2 separate regions of the Homo sapiens genome follow, and region 1 is linked to region 2. Evidence: fine-mapped expression QTL. A gene starts in region 2. The other region holds a variant in brackets. All regions are shown on one strand. Distances are from middle to middle.

What was found.
Region 1: its variant is fine-mapped to the expression of TFIP11 in whole blood (TOPMed, PIP above 0.99).

The regions. Positions count from the first base shown.
Region 1 is chr22:26,536,312-26,541,837 of GRCh38, forward strand. It overlaps TPST2 (tyrosylprotein sulfotransferase 2), which reads right to left. Exons shown (of 7, transcript NM_003595.5): 3 at 4,478-5,407; 4 at 1-175. The coding sequence starts at 5,319. Among named protein-coding and RNA genes, the nearest start is that of MIR548J, 16 kb to the right of the region's middle. RefSeq lists an enhancer at 5,034-5,526. The variant C/T (reference allele first, on the strand shown) is at 2,443.
Region 2 is chr22:26,510,365-26,515,364 of GRCh38, forward strand. TFIP11 (tuftelin interacting protein 11) reads right to left here and starts at 2,109. Exons shown (of 15, transcript NM_012143.4): 1 at 2,030-2,109; 2 at 1,735-1,811; 3 at 253-338. TFIP11-DT (TFIP11 divergent transcript) reads left to right here and starts at 2,168. Exons shown (of 2, transcript NR_144529.1): 1 at 2,168-2,670; 2 at 3,048-4,204. RefSeq lists enhancers at 1,992-2,171, 2,394-2,931.

The DNA.
Region 1 (5,526 bases), 26 kb after region 2:
GGGGTCAGGGTTGCCATAGTTGGGGGGGTTTGCATAAGGGTCATAGCCGAGCTGAGCCAGCATGGGGGCGATCTGGGCCATGTCCCGCACCACATCCCCAGGGATGTGGCCAGTCCACTTGGAGAGCGCTTCCAGGTTAACAGGCTTGATGACCTGGTCCGTGGACCGCTCGATCCTGGGGAGAGAGGAGACGCTGGAGAGGGTAGGGCAGACCCAGATGGCGCCTGAGCGGATTCCCTGCTCAGCCACTCTGGGGCAGCAGGAAAGACTGGAGAAACCTGGCCTCCACCCAGCTCTGCCCCATCAACTGTGAGATGGCAGGTGAGTCATTTTTGCCTCCTCATACCTCCTTTGTACAATGGGAACACAGCATGCAGTGAGAAGTCAGAAGAAAGTACTAGCAGTATACACCATTGGTACATACATTCTGCTTTCTTCTCCAGCTTAAAAAATAACAACAGTTTAGGTCAGGCACAGTGGCTCACACCTGTAATCCCAGCACTTCAGAAAGCCAAGGCAGAAGGATCACTTGAGCTCAGGAGTTTGACACCAACTTGGGCAACATGGTGAAACCCCATTACAAAAATAAGCTGGGCATGGTAACAAGCGCCTGTAGTCCCAGCAGCTGCGCAGGAGGCTGAGATGGGAGAATTGCTTGAGCCCGGGAGGTTGAAGAAGCAGTGAGCCTGAGCTGTGATTGCACCACTGCACTCCAGACTGGGCAACAGAGCAAGACCCTGTCTCAAAAAAAAAAGAAACACTTTTTAATGTGTATGACTAACATGAATATTTTGTCCCTAAAAAAAGTTATAAAACACTAATGATAAAGCTGAAAGCCACTGTGTTCATCACTGCCAGCCCATCGGCTTCCTACAGGCACTCAGTCTTTGCACTGTGGAGCACACCACCTTCTCTAACCTTTTCTTGTAGAGTAGTTAAGAGCAAACCAGGGAGCCAGATTGCCTGGGTTCAGACGCCAGCTGTTCCCCAGCTGTGTGGCCTTGGGAAAGTTACTTCACCTCTCTGGGCCTCAGTTTCCTCTTCTGTAATTGGCAATGATAGTAGTACCTACCTCACTGGGGTTGTCTGAAGAGTAAATGAGTTAATACAAAGAAAGTGCTTAGAAGAGCGTAGGCACATTGTAAGTTTTTTCTTTTTGGAGATGGAGTCTCACTCTGTTGCCCAGGCTGGAGTGCAGTGGCACAATCTTGGCTCACTGCAACCTCCACCTCCTGGGTTCAAACGATTCTCATGCCTCAGCCTCCCAAGTAGCTGGAACTACAGGCATGTACCACCACGCCCAGCTAATTTTTGTATTTTTAGAAGAGACGGGGTTTCACCATGTTGGCCAGGCTGGTCTCGAACTCCTGACCTCAAGTGATCTGCCCGCCTCGGCCTCCCAAAGTGCTGGGATTCCAGACATAAGCCACTGTGCCTGGCCAACACATTGTAAATTTTTAATAAGGGTTAGCATGCTCTCTCTCCTGTGCACACGCTCTCTCTCTCACACACACACACAAACGCGCGTCTGCAGCTGTAAAACAAATACGCTAGTTTTTTTTCCCCACTCAATACCTCACTCTTTTTGCCAGCTATGTAGCCTTCCTCCATCACTTATTTTTCCATTCCCCTGAAGACAGACATTTAGGTTGTTTCCAACTTTTCACAGCTACCATGGAATAACCATCATCTTCAACCTGCTTCCTAACTCTCCCTGTAACAGGCTTCCCAAGCCACCTGAATGATGCAGATCTTACCAATTATAACTCAGGGGCCTGACAGGATGAATGGTGGGGAACCCCCAGGATCAAGGGCCTAGTTCTAAATGTTTTCATCCCAACTAAGAGGTGACTTGGGAAAGAACAGAAAGAGGCAGCAAAAGGAAGACAAGACCGGGCGTGAGGTGAGGAGAACAGGGGAAGGTGAAAGGGTGTGGACTGGTGGGTAGAACACAGATTCAGAGGCTGCAAACCTGGATTTAAATCTTAACTCTACCCAATATGTCAAAAATCTTGAGTATGTGCATGGCTTTTGCCAAAATCCTTGTGTCTCTAGGACTTTATGGTGCAGAAATGAGGTGGACACATCCCAGAACATGAATGAGGGCAATGCTTGATACATATCAGTAAAACTGGAAATAACCGAAGTGTCCAACAATAGGGAATGTGAAGTCGAATATGGCAATCCGTGTAGCAGCCTGTCGCACAGCTATTCAAAATGATGCTGCAGGTCAGGCGCGGTGGCTCATGCCTGTAATCCCAGCACTTGGGGAGGCTGAGGCGGGCAGATCACCTGAGGTCACGAGTTCGAGACCAGCCTGGCCAACATGGCAAAACCCCATCTCTACTAAAAATATAAAAATTAGCAGAGCGTGGTGGCGGGTGCCTGTAATCCCAGCTATTTGGGAGGCTGAGGCAGGGAGAACTGCTTGAACCCGGGAGG[C/T]GGAGGTTGCAGTGAGCCGAGATCACACCACTACACTCCAGCCTGGGTGACAGAGCGAGACTCCGTCTCAACAACAAAACAACAACAAAAATGCTGCTACCAAAGAGTGCTGGCTGCCACTGGCAAGGGCTCCCACACCACCGTGGAAAAAGGCTACAGAGGAGTATGTTTCGTTGGACTCCAGTTTCATCAACAGGCCCTGAAAATGGTGCAGTAGGCCACACATCAAGATCTGGGTGGTGAGATCATGGGTTGTTTCTCCGTTCTTCTTTGGTGTATCTTTTCTAATTTTCTATAGTCAAGATGTATTACTTTGGTAATCTAATATTTTTGTCATAATAATTTATAAAATCCTAGCTCCAGCACCAACTGGCTGGGGTACCCGGCATGTAGGAACTTTGTTGCTAGCGGAGAGCAGCTGCGAGCCTCTAGCTCTGCTCTGGGCCTGGGAAGGGGCCCAGCAGGGACCAGCCATGGGAAGGACCAGCCATGGGAAGGACCACCCTTTCACTGAGCTCTCAGGCTATCCAGAGCCTGATCAGGATGGGAAAGCGTGGAAACTGCATATTCTGCTCCAGCATTGTTCAAAGTGCTCTGGGTCTCAGGATAGGGACAGCAGCTTTTCCAATGGAAGAAGGCAGGGAGCAAGGGACAGAGGGAGGAAGGAAAGGAAAGGATGAGGGGGAGTGAAGGGGAGGATGGGAGGAGTTCTGGACATGGGGAGTTTAAGAACACAATAGGCCAGGGGCCTGTAATCCCAGCACTTTGGGAGGCCAAGGCAGGAGGAAGGCTTGAGCTCAGGGGTTGGAGACCAGCCTGGAAGACATACTGAGATCTCATCTCTACTAGGAAAAAAAAAAAAAAAATGAGCTGGGTGTGGAGATGCTCGCCTGTAGTCCCAACTACTCGGGAGACTGAGGTGGGAGAATTGCTTGAGCCCAAGAGGTCGAGGCTGCAGTTAGCTGGGATCGTGCCACTGCACTCCAGCCTGGGCAACAGAGTGAAACCCTGTCTCAAAAAAACAAAAACAAAAACAAGAAAAACCCCAAAAAACAGACCTGGGTTCCAATCCCAGCACCATGCTTTGTTAGCTGTGTAGCCTGAGGCCAGTAACTTCTCCTCTGTGAGATTCAGTTTTTTGGTCTATAAAATGTGGATAAGAGGTGTTCCTATGTCCTCAGGTTGCTGTGAGGATTAAAGGAGATAAACTTGTTGGGGGCTTAACCCAATACTTGCCATACAGTAGGCACTCATTAAATGACAATGGTGAGGATGGGTACTCCATCAATAAAAGCAGTATCAACACTAAAATAGTAATAATAGCACCTAACATTTATTAACCTATTTGATGCCCACAGGTATCTATAAGGTAGGCAAATTATATTTCCATGTTACAGATGAAGCAATGGAAGCACAGGGGTTGAGTCGCTTTGCCCAGGGTCACACAGCTAAGAAGTGGCAGAGCTGAGGTTTGAACCCAGACATCCTTGTTCTGGAATCTGTGCTCTTAACCTTTACCCACTATTGCCTTACTACAAAGCATATTCAAAGTTTGCAGATTCTAGGCTGGGTGTGGTGGCTCATGCCTGTAATCCCAGGACTCTGGGAGGCTGAGGTGGAAGAACTGCTTGAGGCCAGGAGTTTGAGACCAGCCTGGGCAACAGGGCAAACCCCATCTCTACCAAAAATACAAAAATTAGCCCAGCTTGGTGGCGCATGCCTATAGTCCCAGCTACTCAGGAAGATGAGGTGGGAGGATCACTTGAACAGGGAGGTGGCGGCTGTTACTCCAGCCGGGCAACAGACCGAGACACTGCCTCAAAAAACAAACAAACAGCCCACGAAGTTTGCAGATTCTCTCAGAAAGGAGAGGAGTAATTGTTGTCATTTTTTGGGATAATGAAACGGAGGCTCAGAGAGATATAGTGACTTGCCCAAGGCCACACAGCTCAAGAAAGGCAGTGCTGATTTTCTTGCCTGGCGCCTCTGACTCCAGGGCCAGAGTCTGAGTGGAAGCATCAGGGGCTCCACTCACTTGGACAGGGAGACACCACCGGGCTTGCCAATGAGGTCTTCATGGTGGAGGACAGCGTCGCTCCAGGCGATGCCGAGGAAGTCGAGGATGAGCTTGAGTGAGCGCCTGGGGTGCAGCACCAGCTGCTCGTAGTACACAGGCAGGCACTTCTCCTTGCCTACCTCCATGCACTGGGCGTACATCACCTCGATGGCCTTGTTCCACTTGGTGAGGCAGTCACGGTAGCTGCTGAGGTCAAAGCCCGCAATGGTGACTTTGCGCGTGATCATGGAGTGCACGGAGGCCCGGCCGTCCCGCACCATCAGCAGGAACTTGGAGTTGGGGAACAGGCGCGACAGGTAGACCGAGGACTTGAGCGTAAATGGGTCCTTGTTGCAGAGCACGCGGGCCGGCTCTCCGTGCTTGGCAATCACCTCCAGGATGAAGGCCTGCATGGCGGCGTCCAGCACCTCATCCGTCACCCCCGCCTCATCCAGCCGCAGCTTCTCACGGCCAGACTTGGACCAGGCCTGGCGCATGGCCAGCACGCGCGGGATGATGCGGGTCTCCTCGCCGCAGCGCACCTCGGGGTGCGCGTCCAGCATGGCGCGCATCAACGTGGTGCCACTGCGAGGCACGCCACCCACGAAGATGAGCGGCATGGCCTTGCCATAGCGGTATTCCACGTGGTTGGTGCCCACCATCACCAGCTCCTCCTGCTCAGGCCGCATGGCCCCCCGGGGGCTCCGCAGGCCCGCCAGCACCGCCCGGCACTCTAGCACCTGCTGTCCCAGCTGAACCGCCAGCACCAGGACCAGGGCGCAGCCGGCTGCCAGCAGCACCCTCCGCACCGACAGGCGCATGCTGGGCCGGAGGCAGGGTAGGCCTGGCCTGAGGGCCCGCTTCTGGGGCTTCAGCGACAGGTTAGCGGGCAGCCCGCCAGGCTCACATCTGGGGAGAGAGGGGGACATGCATAGTCAGGGAGGTCTGTGAGCTGTGAGCTCTCCAATAACTGCAAAGCCCTATAACTGCAAACAAGAGGCTGCTGACATGAATGCAGAGGGCACCTT
Region 2 (5,000 bases):
TGCTTTCAGAACTTTCTCCAAATTCAAAGTCCATTAAAGTCAGCATTACTATTCAATAAAAAAGATATTAAAAACCTACTTTTAGATAACAATCAGTACTAAAACAGGTGAACAAAATACTACTCCTAACAGTCTATGATTCTTTAAAAGTACATATCTCCTTGTCCTAGTCAATATCATAAATATCACACATATTCACACATACACAAACCACACAAAAATAACTAAGTAGGTTATTTTGTACATTATTACCTTAGAAAATGAGTAGGTATCTTCTTAGATCCCAGATTCTTTTTTCTATTACTGAGGAAAGAATTATATCTGGATCCTTGGTGGTCCTAGGAGAGTGATTTTTTTTAGAATATGCTTTTTGAAATACATTACTTGATGAAACAAAATTTTCAGTTTTCCTCACAAAACATGAATTTCTTCTGATGAACTGAAAGACTGTAGTAATTATGAACACTATTTTAATAGTCAGATGTCCAGAGATTGATATAGAGAATCTACCTCACAGTAGCTGGGTGACCAGATTCAGTTGTCTTTCTTAAATTGGGATTAACTACCATACCAACCTTAGAGAAGGCTTACAAAGCAAATTCAATGAGTTCAAAATAAGTGCTCAAGAAACGATAGCTTCTACTTTAGTCCCATGATTAGGTTAATCATTGTATTAGTCAGGGTTCTCTAGAGCGACATAACTAATGGAATAGACATACATATATAAAGGGGAGCTTATTAACTATTAACTCACACGATCAAAAGGTCCCACAATAGGCTGTCTGCAGGCTGAGGAGCAAGGAGAGCCAGTCAAGTTCCAAAGCTGAAGAACTTGAAGTCCAATGTTCGAGGGCAGGAAGCATCCAGCACAGGAGAAAGATATAGGCTGGGAGGCTAGGCCAGTCTCTCTTTTCACATTTTTCTGCCTGCTTATATTCTTGCCGTGCTGGCAGCTGATTAGATTATGCCCACACAGATTGAATTGAGGGTGGGTCTGCCTTTCCCCACCCACAGACTCAAATGTTAATCTCCTTTGGCAACACCCACATAGTCACACCCAGGATCAATACTTCGTATCCTTCAATCCAATCAAGTTGACACTCAGTATTTACCATCACAATCATCATTATTATTATGGGACTAGGGAGTAAACTTAGCAAAGTGACTGTAAAATCAGGCAGGCTAAAATCGAAGCCTGAGTTCAAATTCAACTCTATCAGATACCCAGTGTATGAGAATTAAATATGCACGTGAAGCGCCAAGCATGGTGCACTACACAATAATACACTCCATAGGTGACAGCAATTGTGATTCTTGTCTTGCTGAAAGCGGCCTTAAGGCACACGGAGTTCACTACTTCCACAGGCAGTGTCAAACTCTGGTCACCTCTGGCAAAACGTTATCTCTGCCTTCTTCTACTCACTGGTGCACCGGTTGGGTGCAACGGGTCCCAACCTCTTCCAGGAGTGTTTAGGACAGAAGGATTTTCAGAAAAGACGGGGAATCTCAAATACATAAAGTTAAATAATACCACTGCCTGCGTGGGCATAGTAAATGGTAATAAGCCCCGAGTAGTCACAAGTTATGAAGCCTTTATCAGTAGATGCTAGGTACATGCTGGTCGCTTGAGACCGATTATCAACTGTCTGCATCAAGACACTTCTGCAAGGTAGGTACCGTTAGTTTTCATGCTTCAGATAAGAAAAAGGAGGTTCAGAGAAGTTAGTAACTTACCCTAGGTTCCACTGCTCATAGGGCTCAAACTCAGGAGTGCTAGAAGTCAGGCCTCGGGCTTGTCTCTCTCTTGCTGTCTAGGTTTGGTGAAGGAAGCTCAGGTTCTTAAATGAATCCAAGCCCTAAATCCCAGTTGACCCCAAGCAGCACCGCCCCTCTCCGTGCCTCGGCAGAGCTGTCTACGAAATGGATTCCCCTCCCCACACCCCAACGGCTTGGACCGAAGCTCGCCTTCCCTGAGCCTTCGTCCCTACTCTCACTGGCGCTGAGTCCCCTTGTGGCCAGCCGTGCTCACCTGTCCGAGGGTCCAGCGTACCAAATTCAGCTTCACCATCCGCGCGAGAAGACGCCGCTCCTACACCAGAACCCGGAAGCACCGTGGCCGGCGCGCCGGAAATGACGTTAGTCGACAGCGGATGTCCTGCTGGCTGCCAGGGCAGCGTGGGACGCTACGGCGGATATGGCTGCAGAGCGGCCGGCTGGGATCTTAGATAGGAGGGGTGGATTTGCAAGGCCTAGAATAGCTGGGGAGTGGTTTCCCCGCGGAATCGGCCTCCCTGCCGCTCCTGCTTTGTACTGTGACGCTCAGCCTGTGATGACTGGTGTGGAATCCGCTGAGCCACCTTGGCCTAAGGAGACTTTACCACTCTGAGATTGTAAATCTGTAAAATAGAGATGTAGGATTAGCCCATACGGTAGTTGTGGTAAATACTGTGAGACAATAAGGGGCCTGGGACACAGCATTCAAATGGGAATAATGAAGGTCAAGACTGTGATTCCTGTATCTTTGACGCTCTCGGTATAAGCACCGTCGTGGGCACAGGGCAGTGGCCTTTATGCAGGAGTTTAAGAGGGAATGAAGGAATGAATGGGCAAACTCTGGAGTTCCCAAGTATTCTCTCCAGGAGCTGTTTCCATTCTTTTCGTTTCCAGCAGGTTGGTAAATTCATTAATTTATTCATTGATCTAATTAAAATATACTAAGTGCCCCTCACCTGTGCTAGGCCAATGTGATACAATGAGCAGAACAGTCATGGGCCCTCCCTGGGAAGCCCTCACTAGCCCAAGGACTCCTTGTAGACATTTAAGTGTCCACAGGCTCTGGAGTTCCAACCTTGAGTGCAATTTAGCAGCTGTGGACCTTGGGCAAGTCATTACATCTAAGCCTGTTTTCTCTTCTGCAAAATGGTTAAGGATTCAATAAGATAAAACTGTAGGCAATGAAAACCGTACCTGGTAACAGTAGGTGCTGAAGAAGTGTTAGCTATTAATTTTTGCTTAATTTTTCTCTCTCTGCTCTATGTGATGAAAAGATTCAAGAGGCAATTGTTGGAATGTAAAAAGAGCACGGGACTTGGAGTCAAATACTTAAGTCTACCATCAAGTAGTTGTTAAGAATTAAACAACAATTTTTGTGTACCCAGTTAAATGTGGGCTGCTTAGGAATGATGACTGTGTCTTAATGATCTCTGTATTCTTAGTGACATGTAGAATCATTGTGCCTGACACATAGTATGTACTCAGGAAAGAAATGGAAAATGTGGTTTTAGCATTGAAGGCCGGGAGAGAGGGTCTAACAGACTACAAGCCCTGCCAGGAGCAGAGTAAGGGAAACAGAGGAGAAAAGTGTTTTTAGTCTGTGCCTGAATGTATTTACATCTGTTTGTAGCCCAAAAGCCAAAAGCATACATACGCTTGGCTTTTCTGTAGCTATGTTTATGGCTTTACAGCAGATTTTATGGAGCTGCAATTACTTTGATCATGAGGGACTGATGCTAGTGGATTTACTTCACCAAATGGAACTCACTTTGTGGCTTCTGAAGAAGGGACCTTTGTGGACTGTCATGGAGTAGTTAAGAGTGCAGGCTCTGATTTAGTGATCAGAGTCTGCATTGTCAGGAATGGGACAAAGTGAAGTTATGTGGCACTTGATAGGATGCCCTGAGAAGATTGCAACATCACCCCTGTGATATTCCTGCTGAAGATCCATAACCTGGATGTAATCATGAGGATATATCAGACAAACCCACGTAAAGAGACATGCTGTATACAAAACTGTAATCTTAGAAAGTGCCAAGGTCATGAAAATCAAAGATAGACCCTGGAACTGTTCCAAACTGGAGGGGACCAAAGAGGCATGACAACTAAACACAACACATGATTCTGAACTGGATCTTTTTGCTTGAAAGGAAGTTACAGGGACAGTTGGAAAAGTTTAAATGGGGCCTACAATGCCGTGGTAATGATGTGTCCGTGTTAATTTCCTGATTTTCATGGTTGCCTGTTAAGTTACATCAGAGGATGTTCTTGTTTGCTGGAAAGTAAATCAATGTATTTGGCAGGGGATAAGGCATCAAATGGTCACCTTAATTTCAAATTATTACAGGGAAAATGTTTCTCTCTGTACTTAATAACTTTTTTGCAATTTCTTAAAATGAAAGCTCTGGAGTAAAAACTTCAAGGATCCAAATCTCGACTTTGCTACTTCTTAGGTATGGGCCCGAGGGCAGGTTGCTTCACCTCTCTACACCTCAATTTTTCCATCTGTAGATTGGGGATAGTGACAGTACTGATCTAAGAGAGTTGTTTAGAGAAAAACAAAAACAGAAAGTGATAATTAGTGCATGTAAAGCTCCTGGCATGGTAAGAGCTTTCTAAAGGATTGTGGCTATATTCTTATTTATTTATTTATTTATTTATTGAGACAGAGTCTCACTCTGTCGCCCAGGCTAGAGTGCAGCAGCACAATCTTCGCTCATTTGCAACCTCTACCTCCCAGATTCAAGTGATTCTCATGCCTCAGCCTCCCGAGTAGCTGTCATTACAGGCGCAGCTGTAGTGATTCTCATGCCTCAGCCTCTCGAGTAGCTGGCGTTACGCCGCCACGCCCAGCTAATTTTTGTTTTTTTATTTGTTTTAATTTTTTTTTCCCCCAGACAGAGTCTCACTGTGTCACCCAGGCTGGAGTGCAGTGGCACGATCTCAGCTCACTGCAACATATGCTTCCTGGGTTCAAGCAATTCTCCTGTCTCAGCCTCCTGAGTAGCTGGGATTACAGGTGTGCGCCACCACGCCTGGCTACTTTTTGTATTTTTATTAGAGATGGGGTTTCAACATGTTGGCCAAGCTGGTTTCGAACTCCTGACCTCGTGATCCACCTGCCTTGGCCTCCCAAAGTGCTGGGATTACAGGCGTGAGCCACTGCGCCAGCCTTCATTTTTAAAAACCCAATGTCATACCCCTTTCAGTCTCAAAAATCCATGGTT